Linked DNA regions of Homo sapiens: regions 1 and 2 are each linked to region 3. Evidence: fine-mapped expression QTL. A gene starts in region 3. Each other region holds a variant in brackets. All regions are shown on one strand. Distances are from middle to middle.

What was found. PIP is the estimated chance that this variant, and not a neighbour inherited with it, causes the effect. A credible set is the group of variants that fine-mapping cannot tell apart.
Region 1: its variant is the best candidate, but not a certain one, in a credible set for the expression of TKTL1 in spinal cord (GTEx, PIP 0.66).
Region 2: its variant is the best candidate, but not a certain one, in a credible set for the expression of TKTL1 in T cells (TOPMed, PIP 0.86).

Annotation. Positions count from the first base shown.
Region 1 is chrX:155,157,269-155,162,490 of GRCh38, reverse strand. No RefSeq gene overlaps it. Among named protein-coding and RNA genes, the nearest start is that of VBP1, 57 kb to the left of the region's middle. The variant C/A (reference allele first, on the strand shown) is at 2,623.
Region 2 is chrX:154,316,586-154,321,807 of GRCh38, reverse strand. TKTL1 (transketolase like 1) reads right to left here. Exons shown (of 13, transcript NM_012253.4): 8 at 895-1,051. Among named protein-coding and RNA genes, the nearest start is that of TKTL1, 23 kb to the right of the region's middle. The variant G/C (reference allele first, on the strand shown) is at 2,237.
Region 3 is chrX:154,293,840-154,299,061 of GRCh38, reverse strand. It overlaps TKTL1 (transketolase like 1), which reads right to left and starts at 3,267. Exons shown (of 13, transcript NM_012253.4): 1 at 3,069-3,267. The coding sequence starts at 3,202. It overlaps TEX28 (testis expressed 28), which reads left to right and starts at 3,938. Exons shown (of 5, transcript NM_001586.3): 1 at 3,938-4,032. RefSeq lists an enhancer at 3,575-4,076.

The DNA of each region.
Region 1 (5,222 bases), 860 kb before region 3:
CCTCTCCTCCTCAAAAGGAATGCAGCTCCTCACCAGCAACGGAACAAAGCTGGACGGAGAATGACTTTGACAAGTTGAGAGAAGAATGCTTCAGACAATCAAACTACTCCAAGCTAAAGGAGGAAGTTCGAACCAATGGCAAAGAAGTTAAAAACCTTGAAAAAACATTAGACGAATGGACAACTAGAATAACCAAAGCAGAGAAGTCCTTAAATGACCTGATGGAGCTGAAAACCAAGGCACCAGAACTACATGACGAATGCACAAGCCTCAGTAGCCAATTCAATCAACTGGAAGAAACGGTATCAGTGATTGAAGATCAAATGAATGAAATGAAGCGAGAAGAGTTTAGAGAAAAAAGAATAAAAAGAAACAAACAAAGCCTCCAAGAAATATGGGACTATGTGAAAAGACCAAATCTACAACTGATTGGTGTACCTGAAAGTGACAGGGAGAATGGAACCAAGTTGGAAAACACTCTGCAGGATATTATCCAGGAGAACTTCCCCAATCTAACAAGGCAGGCCAACATTCACATTCAGGAAATACAGAGAACGCCACAAAGATACTCCTCGAGAAGAGCAACTCCAAGACACATAATTGTCAGATTCACCAAAGTTGAAATGAAGGAAAAAATGCTAAGGGCAGCCAGAGAGAAAGGTCGGGTTACCCACAAAGGGAAGCCCGTCAGACTAACAGTGGATCTCTTGGCAGTAACTCTACAAGCCAGAAGAGAGTGGGGGCCAATATTCAACATTCTTAAAGAAAAGAATTTTCAACCCAGAATTTCATATCCAGCCAAACTAAGCTTCATAAGTGAAGGAGAAATAAAATCCTTTACAGACAAGCAAATGCTGAGAGATTTTGTCACCACCAGACCTGCCCTAAAAGAGCTCCTGAAGGAAGCACTAAACATGGAAAGGAATAACAGGTACCAACCACTGCAAAAACATGCCAAATTGGAAAGACCATCGAGGCTAGGAAGAAACTGCATCAACTAATGAGCAAAATAACCAGCTAACATCATAATGACAGGATCAAATTCACACATAACAGTATCAACCTTAAATGTAAATGGGCCAAATGCTCCAATTAAAAGACACAGACTGGCAAATTGGATAAAGAGTCAAGACCCATCAGTGTGCTGTATTCAGGAAACCCATCTCATGTGCAGAGACACACATAGGCTCAAAATAAAAGGATGGAGGAAGATCTACCAAGCAAATGGAAAACAAAAAAAGGCAGGGGTTGCAATCCTAGTCTCTGATAAAACAGACTTTAAACCAACAAAGATCAAAAGAGACAAAGAAGGCCATTACATAATGGTAAAGGGATCAATTCAACAAGAAGAGCTAACTATCCTAAATATATATGCACCCAATACAGGAGCACCCAGATTCATAAAGCAAGTCCTGAGTGACCTACAAAGAGGCTTAGACTCCCACACAATAATAATGGGAGACTTTAACACCCCACTGTCAACATTAGACAGATCAACGAGACAGAAAGTTAACAAGGATATCCAGGAATTGAACTCGGCTCTGCACCAAGCGGACCTAATAGACATCTACAGAACTCTCCACCCCAAATCAACAGAATATACATTTTTTTCAGCACCACACCACACCTATTCCAAAATTGACCACATAGTTGGAAGTAAAGCTCTCCTCAGCAAATGTAAAACAACAGAAATTGTAAAAAACTGTCTCTCAGACCACAGTGCAATCAAACTAGAACTCAGGATTAAGAACCTCACTCAAAACCGCTCAACTACATGGAAACTGAACAATCTGCTCCTGAATGACTACTGGGTACATAACGAAATGAAGGCAGAAATAAAGATGTTCTTTAAAACCAATGAGAACAAAGACACAACATACCAGAATCTCTGGGACACATTCAAAGCAGTGTGTAGAGGGAAATTTATAGCACTAAATGCCCACAAGACAAAGCAGGAAAGATCTAAAATTGACACCCTAACATCACAATTAAAATAACTAGAAAAGCAAGAGCAAACACATTCAAAAGCTAGCAGAAGGCAAGAAATAACTAAGATCAGAGCAGAACTGAAGGAAATAGAGACACAAAAAACCCTTCAAAAAATCAATGAATCCAGGAGGTGGTTTTTTGAAAAGATCAACAAAATTGATAGACCACTAGCAAGACTAATAAAGAAGAAAAGAGAGAAGAATCAAATAGACGCAATAAAAAATGATAAAGGGGATATCACCACCGATCCCACAGAAATACAAACTACCATCAGAGAACACTATAAACACCTCTACACAAATAAACTAGAAAATCTGGAAGAAATGGATAAATTCCTCGACACATAGACCCTCCCAAGACTAAACCAGGAATAAATTGAATCTCTGAATAGACCAATAATAGGCTCTGAAATTGAGGCAATAATTAATAGCTTACCAACCAAAAAAAGTCCAGGACCAGATGGATTCACAGCCGAATTCTACCAGAGGTACAAGGAGGAGCTGGTACCATTCCTTCTGAAACTATTCCAATCAACAGAAAAAGATGGAATTCTCCCTAACTCATTTTATGAGGCCAGCATCATCCTGATACCAAAGCCTGGCAGAGATACAACCAAAAAAGAGAATTTTAGAC[C/A]AATATCCTTGATGAACATTGATGCAAAAATCCTCAATAAAATACTGGCAAACCGAATCCAGCAGCACATCAAAAAGCTTACCCACCATGATCAAGTGGGCTTCATCCCTGGGATGCAAGGCTGGTTCAACATATGCAAATCAATAAATGTTATCCAGCATATAAACAGAACCAATGACAAAAACCACATGATTATCTCAATAGATGCAGAAAAGGCCTTTGACAAAATTCAACAGCCCTTCATGCTAAAATCTCTCAATAAATTAGGTATTGATGGGACGGATCTCAAAATAATAAGAGCTATTTATGACAAACCCACAGCCAATATCATACTGAATGGGCAAAAACTGGAAGCATTCCCTTTGAAAACTGGCACAAGACAGGGATGCCCTCTCTCACCACTCCTATTCAACATAGTGTTGGAAGTTCTGGCCAGGGCAATCAGGCAGAAGAAAGAAACAAAGAGTATTCAATTAGGAAAAGAGGAAGTCAAATTGTCCCTGTTTGCAGATGACATGATTGTGTATCTAGAAAACCCCATCGTCTCAGCCCAAAATCTCCTTAAGCTGATAAGCAACTCCAGCAAAGTCTCAGGATACAAAATCAATGTGCAAAAATCACAAGCATTCTTATACACCAATAACAGACAAACAGAGAGCCAAATCATGAGTGAACTCCCATTCACAATTGCTTCAAAGAGAATAAAATACCTAGGAATACAACTTGCAAGGGATGTGAAGGACCTCTTCAAGGAGAACTACAAACCACTGCTCAGTGAAATAAAAGGGGATACAAACAAATGGAAGAACATTCCATGCTCATGAATAGGAAGAATCAATATTGTGAAAACGGCCATACTGCCCAAGATAATTTATAGATTCAATGCCATCCCCATCAAGCTACCAATGACTTTCTCCACAGAATTGGAAAAAACTACTTCAAAGTTCATATGGAACCAAAAAAGAGCCCGCATTGCCAAGTCAATCCTAAGCCAAAAGAACAAAGCTGGAGGCATCATGCTACCTGACTTCAAACTATACTACAAGGCTACAGTAACCAAAACAGCATGGTACTGGTACCAAAACAGAGATATAGACCAATGGAACAGAACAGAGCCCTCAGAAATAATGCCACACATCTGCAACTATCTGATCTTTGACAAACCTGACAAAAACAAGAAATGGGGAAAGGGTTCCCTATCTAATAAATGGTGTGGGGAAAACTGGCTAGCCACATGGAGAAAGCTGAAACTGGATCCCTTCCTTACACCTTATACTAAAATTAATTAAAGATGGATTAAAGATTTAAATGTTAGACCTAAAACCATAAAAACCCTAGAAGAAAACCTAGGCAATACCATTCAGGACATAGGCATGGGTAAGGACTTCATGTCTAAAACACCAAAAGCAATGGCAACAGAAGCCTAAATTGACAAATGGGATCTAATTAAACCAAAGAGCTTCTGTACAGCAAAAGAAACTACCATCAGAGTGAACAGGCAACCTACAGAATGGGAGAAAATTTTTGTAATCTACTCATCTGACAAAGGGCTAATATCCAGAATCTAGAATGAACTCAAACAAATTTACAAGACAAAAACAAACAACCCCATCAAAAAGTGGGCGAAGGACATGAACAGACACTTCTCAAAAGAAGACATTTATGCAGCCAAAAGACACATGAGAAAATGCTCATCATTACTGGTCATCAGAGAAATGCAAATCAAAACCACAATGAGATACCATCTCACACCAGTTAGAATGGTGATCATTAAAAAGTCAGGAAACAACAGGTGCTGGAGAGGATGTGGAGAAATAGGAACACTTTTACACTGTTGGCGGGACTGTAAACTAGTTCAACCATTGTGGAAGTCAGTGTGGCGATTCCTCAGGGATCTAGAACTAGAAATACCATCTGACCCAGCCATCCCATTACTGGGTATATACCCAAAGGATTATAAATCATGCTGCTATAAAGACACATGCACACGTATGTTTATTGCGGCACTACTCACAATAACGAAGACTTGGAACCAACCCAAATGTCCAACAATGAGAGACTGGATTAAGAAAATGTGGTACATGTACACCATGGAATACTATGCAGCCATAAAAAAGGATGAGTTCATGTCCTTTGTAGGGACATGGATGAAGCTGGAAACCATCATTCTCAGTAAAGTATCGCAAGGACAGAAAACCAAACACCGCATGTTCTCACTCATAGGTGGGAATTGAACAATGAGAACACATGGACACAGGAAGCAGAACACCACACACTGGGGCATGTTGTTCGGTGGGGGGAGGGGGGAGCGATAGCATTAGGAGATATACCTAATGTAAATGATGAGTTACTGGGTGCAGCACACCAGCATGGCACATGTATACATGTGTAACTAACCTGCACATTGTGCACATGTACCCTAAAACTTAAAGTATAATTTAAAAAAAAGAAAAATACAAAAAAGAAAATGGAAATCAACCATAATTGTTACACTTAGAGATAGCTAAGGCTGGTTGCAGTGTCTCACGCCTGCAATCTCAGCACTTTGGGAGGCTGAGGCAGGCAGATCACCTGAGATCAGGAGTTAGAGACCAGCCTGG
Region 2 (5,222 bases), 23 kb before region 3:
ATCTCGTCCAGCCTCATTCTCCCAGGGAGTCCCTGAGATGGCTTTCCAGCGTGCATCTCTGGCATTCTAGAAGCAAGTGTGTGCAGCCACATCTAGTAAGCCCATCTGCCTGCCACAGGCACGCCAGCTGGCTCATCTTTCCCATGTCATTTCTGTCATTCACGAAAATGACTCTCTGACGTTTCCCAAGTGAGGAATCCCGGAGACTCGTGTGTTTTGCTCTTCACGCCATTGCAGAGTGCTCCATCTGTTAGGCACACTCACCTCTTTCTTCACTCTCAGGTCCCCCCCCACCCCCCTGGTTTTCTCCCCCACCACCTTGCACACCTTGTTTCAATCCCCTCTCTGGCTTCCCGTTTCCTGTGGTTTCCTTCTAGCCCACCTGCCAGGTGACTACTACTCTGAGAAGGGTGTGTTTGTAAGAGTTCCTGCCTCGTGTCACGCTCCAGGGTTCTCGCTGCCCCAGGCAGGAAGGTGGTGATGGTGGTCCCAGCCCCCCTCCCACCTGAGCAGGCTGTGCAGCCAGCCAGAATGCTCCTCGTCCTCTGTGATGCTGTTCACCCTCAGTTAGACTGCAACCACAGCGAGGGCAGAAAAGGCTCCATGACTCTGCCAGTCCTGTCCATAACCTGCACGCAGCTCAACACACAAGGGGCACTCGGGATAAGCAACTGTTTCTCACTGTCTGAAACAACAGTACCACCGAGAGATGCACTTCAAAAGTTGCCCTGAGAGTCTGACACTTTTAAAGTACAATATGGCTTTTTCAAGAAAAAGGCTTGAATAATCAAACTTCATGGAACCATAAGGAAATTCGTGGTTTAACCAATCACATGCTAATCTTTCTCTGTGAAGGAGGAAGGCTACCAAGATGATGGCATTTAGAACCCTTACCAACAGATACCCCACAGTGGGAACCAATAATGTTGATGTTGCTCTCAGCGAGGCCTCCTATCCGGATGTGATCAAATGCTCGAGTCAGAAAGGCAGCAAAGGTGCTAGCAAAAGCAATGGTCCGTCCACGGGAGGCACAGCCCAGAGCCACGCTCACCTGCAGCACAGAGAACATGAATCAGAACATCCCTGGGCATTGCCCCCACCGCCCCTTCTCCCACAGTCCCCATGATAACTCCCATTCTGCACCTGCTGAACTGCTCTGAAGTTCTAGCATGCGTCCTTCCCACACCCCTCTTTCCTCAAACCCTGGGCACCCGTCCGTCCCTCCTGCTCAGACGGCGCCCTCAACTCATAGCTCCTAGGGAGCAAGAGATGAGACTCTCTTGCCTGCCCTCCTGGTGTCCGCAGCTTTCCAGGGTCCATGCCCCGACAGGACATCCTGAATCTGTCCTGTTCCTGCTTTCTCACAGGGGTCTCCAGCCATGCAGCTCCTCCTCCCCTCTTGTGCTACTTCCCTTTCTCTTGGATCATTCTATTTCCATTCAGGTGTGCGCCAGCACCTTTTATCTTCACAGCCCCATCTCCGCCTTGTCCTGCTTTTACATCTGTGTTCTCCTTCGCAGCAAACTTCTCAAAACTTGCCTATAGTCATTGCCCCTGCTTTCTCATTTTCCACGCTCTTCCCAGCCTACTTCATCTAGGCCACCATCCCCACAAGGGACCTCGAAGCCACAAAACCAAGAGGCTGCCTGACCTTGGGTGGCCTGTGACTTGACTTGGCCCCTGATCTCAAGGCATTTCCTCCTCTCGGTTTCTGCAGTGTGGCAGTGGCCCACTGCTGTCGCCTCATGGGCGCTGCTGGGGCAAGTCCTCAGGGCCCTGTGCACCCTCGGGAAGTCGCATCTGGCCCAATGCTCCCCTGATGTGCATTCTGGTAATGATCCCCACTTTACATTGCCATTCCTTACCCCCCTTCCCCAGAAGTCCGGGCTCAAATACCCCAGAAGGCTTCAAACTAGAATACAAACCTCTCTGCGGATACACACAGGCTTTCCAAAGGGGATGTGGCTGTGGGTGTTACACTCAAGATCCCAAACTCCAGATCAACTCTGTCTACATTCATCTGCCAAAAGGAGGGTCTGTGCTCCCCTCATGGTCTTTTTTTTTTTTTTTAGACAGGGTCTTGCTCTGTTGCCCAGGCTGGGGTGCACTGGTGCAATCTTGGCTCACTGCAACCTCCACCTCCTGGGTTCAAGCGATTCTCCTGTCTCTGCCTCCCGAGTAGCTGGGATTACAGGCACCCGCCACCACGTCTGGCTAATTTTTGTATTTTTAGTAG[G/C]GACGAGGTTTCACCATATTGGTCAGGCTGGTCTCGAACTGACAGGTGATCCACCCACCTCGGCCGGCCTCCCAAAGTTCTGGGATTACGGGCGTGAGCCACTGCCCCTGGGTCTCCCACTGTCTCTTTTAACAATCACCTTCTAGCAACCTGATCCCCAAAGGGCATGCTCTCAGCCACCTGACTCTTACAGGGGGATCATCCTGGAGTGCAGAACCTCCAGACCCAAGTAAAGAGGACAATTTGAAATAACTATGCTGGTGGAGAGAAAGTGAAGAACTTAATTAATGAAACTGTCAACTCTGTAAATAACTTTTATAAACAACTTTACATGAAAGATCACTATGTGATTTTTTGACTTACAACTGGGAAGGAATTCAAAGAACTGAGTGACATTCCTCTAACAAAACTTCCCTTCCCATCTACTTATTCATGTAAGTAAGGTTTCATAGCACATCATGAAGATGAAAAACAGGAATAGAATCTGTTCTCAATGCTATCACATTCAAACTACAAGTATACTCATCCACTAACATACCAGCTAATAATAATCAAAATTCTATCTCAGTCCAGAAAAAAAAACCTAATGCTCAGAAGCCTATATTATAATTTTTTAAAAACCTATCAATTTATATGCATATTTTTGTTGCAGAGAAAAATGATAGGACAATCAATAAAAGGCTTTCATGCATAAAGATATATTGGGGAAATGAATGGAATGGAAATTGGAAATCAAGTAGAAAAAGGGTTTTAATTTCTGACAAAGAAAAGTGGCTTGGCATGAATTTTTTTTTTTTAATTACAGACCAGGTCTCACTATGTTGTTCAGGCTGGTCTTGAACTTTTTTTTTTTTTTTTTTTTTTGAGACGGAGGCTCGCTCTGTCGCCCAGGCTGGACTGCAGTGGCGCAATCTCAGCTCACTGCAAGCTCTGCCTCCCGGGTTCACGCCATTCTCCTGCCTCAGCCTCCCGAGTAGCTGGGACTACAGGCACCCACCACCACGCCCGGCTAATTTTTTTTTTTTTTTGTATTTTTAGTAGAGAAGGGGTTTCACCATGTTAGCCAGGATGGTCTCCATCTCCTGACCTCGTGATCCGTCCGCCTCGGCCTCCCAAAGTGCTGGGATTACAGGCGTGAGCCACCGCACCCGGCCTGGTCTCGAACTCTTGAACTCCAGCAATCCTCCAGCTTCAGCCTCCCAAAGTGCCGGGATTACAGGTGTGAGCCACTATGCCCAGCCAGTGTCATCATTAATGGCATGATTTGAGTATTAAAGTATCAAAAATGTCAATATATGAACAACTACATCCTTTGCAACGACTTAAATTTATGATTAAAAATGTAGATGTGGCCAAGCATGGCGGCTCCCAGCTCCTCAAGAGGCCGAGGCCAGAGGACCCCTTGAGCCCAGGAGTTTGAGGCTGCAGGGAGCCATGATTGTGCCACTGCATTCCAGCCTGGGTGACAGAGCAAGACTCCATCTCTACAAAAAATAAAAATAAAAAAAAGATGTTAGCTTAAAACTAGGCCAACGAATATGTAGTTTAGAAAACTGCATTTAGTGGTGTGGAGCGGCCACATGTGAAAATGACTGACTGATCTACTGCCCAGCCATCTGATACCACTGTCTCCCCTCTGTACATCTAACAGGTGCCCCAACCCCCCAGGCCCACACAGAGCTCCTGATGGTGCCCTCCAGTCCACTTCTCCCCCAGTCTTGTCAATCTCAAGAGGTGACACCACCTTCCCCCAGGTGCTGCCACCCACACTCAAGCACCAGCCTTGGGTCCTGTCCTGACACCTGCCGTTGGCATCCTGCTGGCTCTCCTGCCAAGGCAATATGTGACAAGTCTGCTTCCCTCCGACTCCACAGCTACTGCCCTGGTCCAAGTCACCCTCTCCTTCTCCTCCCTTTCCTACGTGAAGCCATTCTCCAGTCTTCAGAGTTTTGGAAAACGCAGGCTGTTGCTTTCCTGCTTAAAGCCCTCCAGTGGCTTCCCAGCAAACTGCAAGAGAACCAGAGATACTGAAAAGGGCGCCTATAAGACCCCGTATGACCTGGGCCCTGGAGAGTTTTCTGCGTTCACCATGCTCCTACCACTTGGCCCTTCCTCTGCTCTCCAAACATTCCAAGCCTGGGCCTGCCTACAGTTGGCCATGCCCCTTGCTTGAAATGCTGTCTCCCACATCTGCACACGGCTGACCCCTCGTCACCTGAGACTCAGCTTAAGTATCACCTTTTCTGAGAGGTTGTCCCTGACTGCCCCTGGTCAAGCTCTACATTGTAGCCACCTCTTTCAACATGGCACTAAATACCACCTGCTCGCCTTTTCTTTACAACTTTTTTCCAACTGTGAGAACATATCAGCAGGGACGGAGTAGACTACATGGCTGCGTGCTGAGGCAATCAGTGAGGTGGGGAGCAAAATTTTTGACAGGAGCATTAATCCAGAAAATTACGGATCGCATTGTTTTCTATTCAAAATGAAAACAGCTTAATGAGCCAGGCTCGGGGGCTCACACCTGTAATCCCAGCACTTTGGGAGGCTGAGGCAGGCAGATCACCTGAGGTCAGGAGTTGGAGACCAGCCTGACCAACATGGTGAAACCCTGTCTCCACTAAAAACACAAAAATTAGCCAGGCATGGTGGCGCATGTCTGTAATCCCAGCTACCTGCGAGGCTGAGGCAAGGGAATCGCTTGAACCTGGGAGGCAGAGGTTGCAGTGAGCTGTGATCGTGCCACTGCACTCCAGCCTCGGTGAGAGAGAGAGAGAGACTCCATCTCAAAAAAAAAAAACCCCCAAAAAAAAACCAAAAACCACAAAACAACAAAAAACCCAAATGGCCCAGCAGAGCATGGGGAGCTGTGGGGACACCCATCTCAACAGGGGTGCTGTTTGGCTTCAGTCAACTGGCGTCAGGAGGGAATGCCACCCTATGGTAGTAGTTCTTCCCATTTTTCAAAAGAATCCAGAAATATGTA
Region 3 (5,222 bases):
GCCAAGTGGGACATTTCTAGCTGTAAACACATTTTTTAAAACCCCTCACATCTGGCCGGGTGCGGTGGCTCACACTTGTAATCCCAGCACTTTGGGAGCCGAAGCGGGCAGATCACTTGAGGCCAGGGGTCTGAAACCAACCTGGCCAACAAGGAGAAACCCCATCTCTAGCCTGGGCGACACAGCAAGACTCTGTCTCAAAAAATAATAATAAATAAATAACCCTTCAAATCAACAACCTAACTTTACAACGTAAGGACTAAACCCAAAGCTAGCAGGAGAAAGGAAATAAAAAAGATCAAAGCACAAATAAAACAGAGACTAAGAAAATAGAAAAAATTTAATGAAACCAATTTTTTTTTCTTTTTGAGACAGGGTCTCAGTTTGTCACCCAGGCTGGAGTGTAGGGCACAAACATGGCTCACTGCAGCCTCAAGCAATCCTTCCGCCTCAGCCTTCCGAGTAGCTGAGACTACAGGTGCTCGCCATGTCTAGCTAATTGTTGTATTTTTGGCAGAGACGGGGTTTCCCCATGTTGCCCAGGCTTGTCCTGAACTCTTGAGCTCAAGTGATCCAGCTGCCTCGGCCTCCTAAAGTGCTGAGGTTACAGGCGTGAGCCACCTCCCCTAGCCAAAGCTGGTTCTTTATAAAAGGTCAACAAAACTAGCTATTAATAGATGGGCAGGGCATGGTGGTGTGCACCTGTAGTTCCAGCTACTCAAGAGGCTGAGAGGAAGGAGAGTCGCTTGAGCCCACGAGAGTTCGAGGCTGCAGTGAACTATGATTGCACCACTGCACTCCAGCCTGGGTGAAAGAGCAAGACCCTGCTTAAAAAAAAAAAGTACAATCAAGTTAAAGTGGAGTCATTAATACCGCTTCTACAGAAATAAAAAGAGTGACAGTGTACTATGAATAACTGCATGCCAACAAATGGACTAACCTACAAGAAATGGATAAATTCCTAGAAACAGAAAGCCTCACAAAACTTAATCAGGACAAGAAAATCTGAATAGACCTACAACTAACTAGTAAGGAGACTAAAGCAGTAATAAAAAAAACGCCCAATAAATAAAAGCCTCATTCGTAATTACTGCCAAACATTTAAAGAAAAATTAACAACAGTCTTCTTCAAACTCCTCAAAAAAAAATTTTTTTTTCTCTACAAGGTCTCGCTTCCTCTGTTCCCCAGGCCGTAGTGGCACAATCTTAGTTCACTGCAAACTCTGTCCCCCGCGTAGCTGGGACTACAGGCACGTGCCACCACGCCCAGCTAATTTTTGTAACATTCTGCACAGGGGATTGCCATCTTGCCCAGGCTGATCTCGAACTTTCTAGGCTCACACGATCCGCCTGCTTTGGCCTCTCAAAGTCCTGGGATTACAGGTTGGAGCCACCACGCCCGACCTCTCCAAAAAATTTAAGGTGGAACACTTTGAAACTCATCCTATGAAGCCAGCATTACACTTTTGATACCAAAAGCAAATACTACAACAAAACTATAGACCAGGCCAGGCGCGGTGGCTCACGCCTGTAATCCCAGCACTTTGGGAGGCCGAGGCGGGCGGATCACGAGGTCAGGAGATCGAGACCATCCTGGCTAACACGGGGAAACCCCGTCTCCACTAAAAAACAGAAAAAATTAGCCAGGCGTGGTGGCGGGCGCCTGCAGTCCCAGCTACTCCGGAGGCTGAGGCAGGAGAATGGCGTGAACCCAGGAGGCGGAGCTTGTAGTGAGCCAAAATCGTGCCACTGCACTCCAGCCTGGGCGACAGTGATACTTCGTCTCAAAACAAAAAAAGAAAAAAAAAACAAAAAAAACCTGTAGACCAATATCCCTTATACTGATGCAAAAACCATCAACCGCATACTAGCAAATTCAACAGCTCATTTTTGTTCCAATTCGTACTCAATTCCCGGTTTCTTTTACTTTATTTTTTTAGAGACAGGGTCTCACTGTTTGCCAAGCTGAATGCGAACTCCTGGGCTCAAGCGATCCTCCCTCCTCAGGCCCCACGTACTGAGACTGCAGGCGTGAGCCACCGCCCTCAGCTGGGTTTAACTTTTTTTTCTTTGAGGCACGGTCTCGCTCTTGCCCAGGCTGGAGTGCGGTGGCGCAATCTCAGTTCACTGTAACCTGAGCCTCTCAGCCTCCCGCGTAGCTGGGACTACAGGCACGTGCCACCACGCCCAGCTAATTTTTGTAACATTTTGTACAGAGGTTCGCCATCTTGCCCAGGCTGATCTCGAACTAGTTTCTAGGCTCACACGATCCGTCTGCCTCGGCCTCCCAAAGTGCTTGGGATTACAGGTGGCAGCCACTACACCCAGCCACTCCAAAAAATTTAAGATGGAACACTTTGAAACATCCTATGAAGCCAGCATTACACTTTGATACCAAAACCAAATACTACAATACAACTAGAGACCAATATCCCTCAAACTGATGCAAAAACCATCAACTGCATACCAGCAAACCCAACAGCACAAGCAAGCCTCCCGAATAGCTGGGAGTGCAGGTGTGCGCCCCCATGCCCGACTCATTTTTTATTTTTATTTTTTGGTAAGAGACGGGGTTTCGCCATGTTGCCCAGGCTGGAATTTTAATTGCTTTTTATCCTCACATCCTGGGTTAGAGTCGCTCATTCACCCTCGGGGATCCAGTACAACTGCTTACCAGGGAAGCCCTGCTCCCCGCTAAAATGAAAACCACAGCTAGCCCAATCTGATCCCAGTGACATTCTCCCGCCACCTCAGTCCAGTCTGGATCCTTTGTCTCCCAACTGGAGATCTTGGCGACCTCCAGAACTTTGGCCGTGGGTAAATTGAGGGGCGGGCTCCAGAACCCGCGGCTGACCAACCAACCGACCGACCCTTGGGTTGGCGGGAATAGTGCCTCGCTGCCATCTAGGGTGCTCGACCGGGCCCCAACAGCCCAAGACAGGGCATTACGACACAGCCCATTGTGCCTCTGAAGGCTCTCCCTTCACCACACGGCCTCATGGCCACCAGGCCTGAAGCCACCGGGCCCGTGGCCCTGCATGACCCAGACTTCAATGAGGAGAACTTACCCGGAGCTCGTGGAGCATGTGGCCCTGATGGAATGGATTCGCAAGCGGCTGGCCATATCTTGCAACACCTGCAAGGTGCCCCTGTCAGGTCTGGCCTCCTCCGGGAACTCAGCCCTCGCCTCAGCATCCGCCATTAGTCCAACCCCTTTGGAGTCTGAAGACCCACTCCTACGTCTCCGGCGTCTGAAGAGCGAATGGCGCCTGCGAGCTGCCCAGTGCGTTTATGTGATGTCGGTGCAGCTCCCTCCGCATGCCTCGTGCCACTCCCTCCACCTGCCGCTCCCTCCGCCGGCCGCTCCCTCCGCAAGCAAGTCAAGGGATCTGGAATGTTTGTGACTTGCATGTGCACAGTTATTGAAAATAGTCCCATTCTCATCTTCTCTCCTGCAATCTCAAAAGGGCTCCCTCCGCGCGGGTGCAGGGTCTTCTTTCTCTGCACAAAAAGTTCCGGCACTAGCTGTGTGGTGCCGCACGTGTCAGGGGGTGGTGCCGCACGTGTCAGGGGGTGGTGCCGCACGTGTCAGGGGGTGGTGCCGCACGTGTCAGGGGGTGGTGCCGCACGTGTCAGGGGGTGGTGCTGCACGTGGGACGTGCAGCTGCAACCGTAAAGGTGGGGGAGGGAGGGAGCTGCTGTGGCGCAATTTTTTGTTTCGTGATAAATGGTCACCCCTCCCCCACAACAGCCCAGGCTATGGCGGGCAGGGTGGGGGTGGGGCAGTGCTCAGGGTTCTGAGACGGTTGGCGCCTGCGCCAGCCTCCTTTCCTTTTTTAAAACATTCTATGAGGCAAGCCCCGTGTGATTGTTGAGGAGGAGTTAGCCCATTGCCAGCCTGTGACGTGACTGACTCGAATGAACCCTGGTAACTAGGGAATGTGCTCGCCCTGTGTCTGAAATGCCCCATGTCCGGTGGTGCCAGCACTAGCCCCCATGTCGGTCTCAGAGAACCTTCTCCCCACCTCTGAGGTGACCTACCGACCCAGAACTCGCATGGCTCCCAACGGCGCCAGCTCCACAGCGCCGTGCCCAAGTCCAGACATTCCGGATCCCAAGTGCTGTCTCTTGGTTCAAAAATGCCGAATTTCTACGTGAGCTCAAGTCAGGCCGCCTGGTCGCGCCACAGGCTGAATGCCCTTGGGTTCCCATGTTCTGCTGGGTTAAAGGGAATGTGTGTTTACATTTTTTTTTTTTTTGAGACGGAGTCTCGCCCTGTCGCCCAAGCTGGAGTGCAGTGGCTCGAACTTAGCTCGTTGCAACCTCTGCCTCCTGGCTTCAAGCGATTCTCCTGCCTCAGCCTCCTGAATAGCTGGGATTACAGGCATCCGCCACCACACCTGGCTAATTTTTTGTATTTTTAGTAGAGACGGGTTTTCACCATGTTGGCCAGGTTGGTCTCGAACTCCTGACCTCAGGTGATCTGCCCACCTCGGCCTCCCAAAGTGTTGGGATTACAGGTGTGAGCCACCATGCCAGGCGGTGGTGGGCACCTGTAATCCCAGCTAATGGGAATCTGAGGCAGGAGAATCACTTGAATCCGGGAAGCGGAGGTTGCAGTGAGCTGAGATGGCGCCACTGTACTCCAGCCTGGGCGACAGAGCAAGACTCCGTCTAAAAAAAAAAAAAAAGTGGCTGGGCACAGTGGCACACGCTCCTGTAATCCCAGCACTTTGGGAGGCCAAGGTGGGTGGATCACCTGAGGTCAGGAGTTCCTGACCAGCCTAACATGGAGACACCCCGTTTCTACTAAATACAAAAAAATTAGCTGGGTGTAGTGGCACATACCTGTACTCCCAGCTACTTGGGAGGCTGAGACAGGAGAATCGCTTGTACCTGGGAGGTCGAGGTTGCGGTGAGCCAAGATCGAGCCATTGCACTCCAGCCTGGGCAACAAGAGCAAAACTCTGTCTCAAGAAAAAAAATTTAACAGGCCACCTAATTGCGATTAAAAAAAAACCAAAACCCTGAATCTGTTTAGATTCCCACTTGCAGGGTATGTGACATCACCTTCTGCCACATTCTCGCCAGCCCTGGACATTGTTAGGCTTTTTAATTTTTGGCGTTCTGGTGGATGAGAAAATAGTATTTAATTGTTGCTTTTCGCTTACTATTCCCGGATCACCTTGCAATTACATGTTTTATTATACGTTTACTGTCTT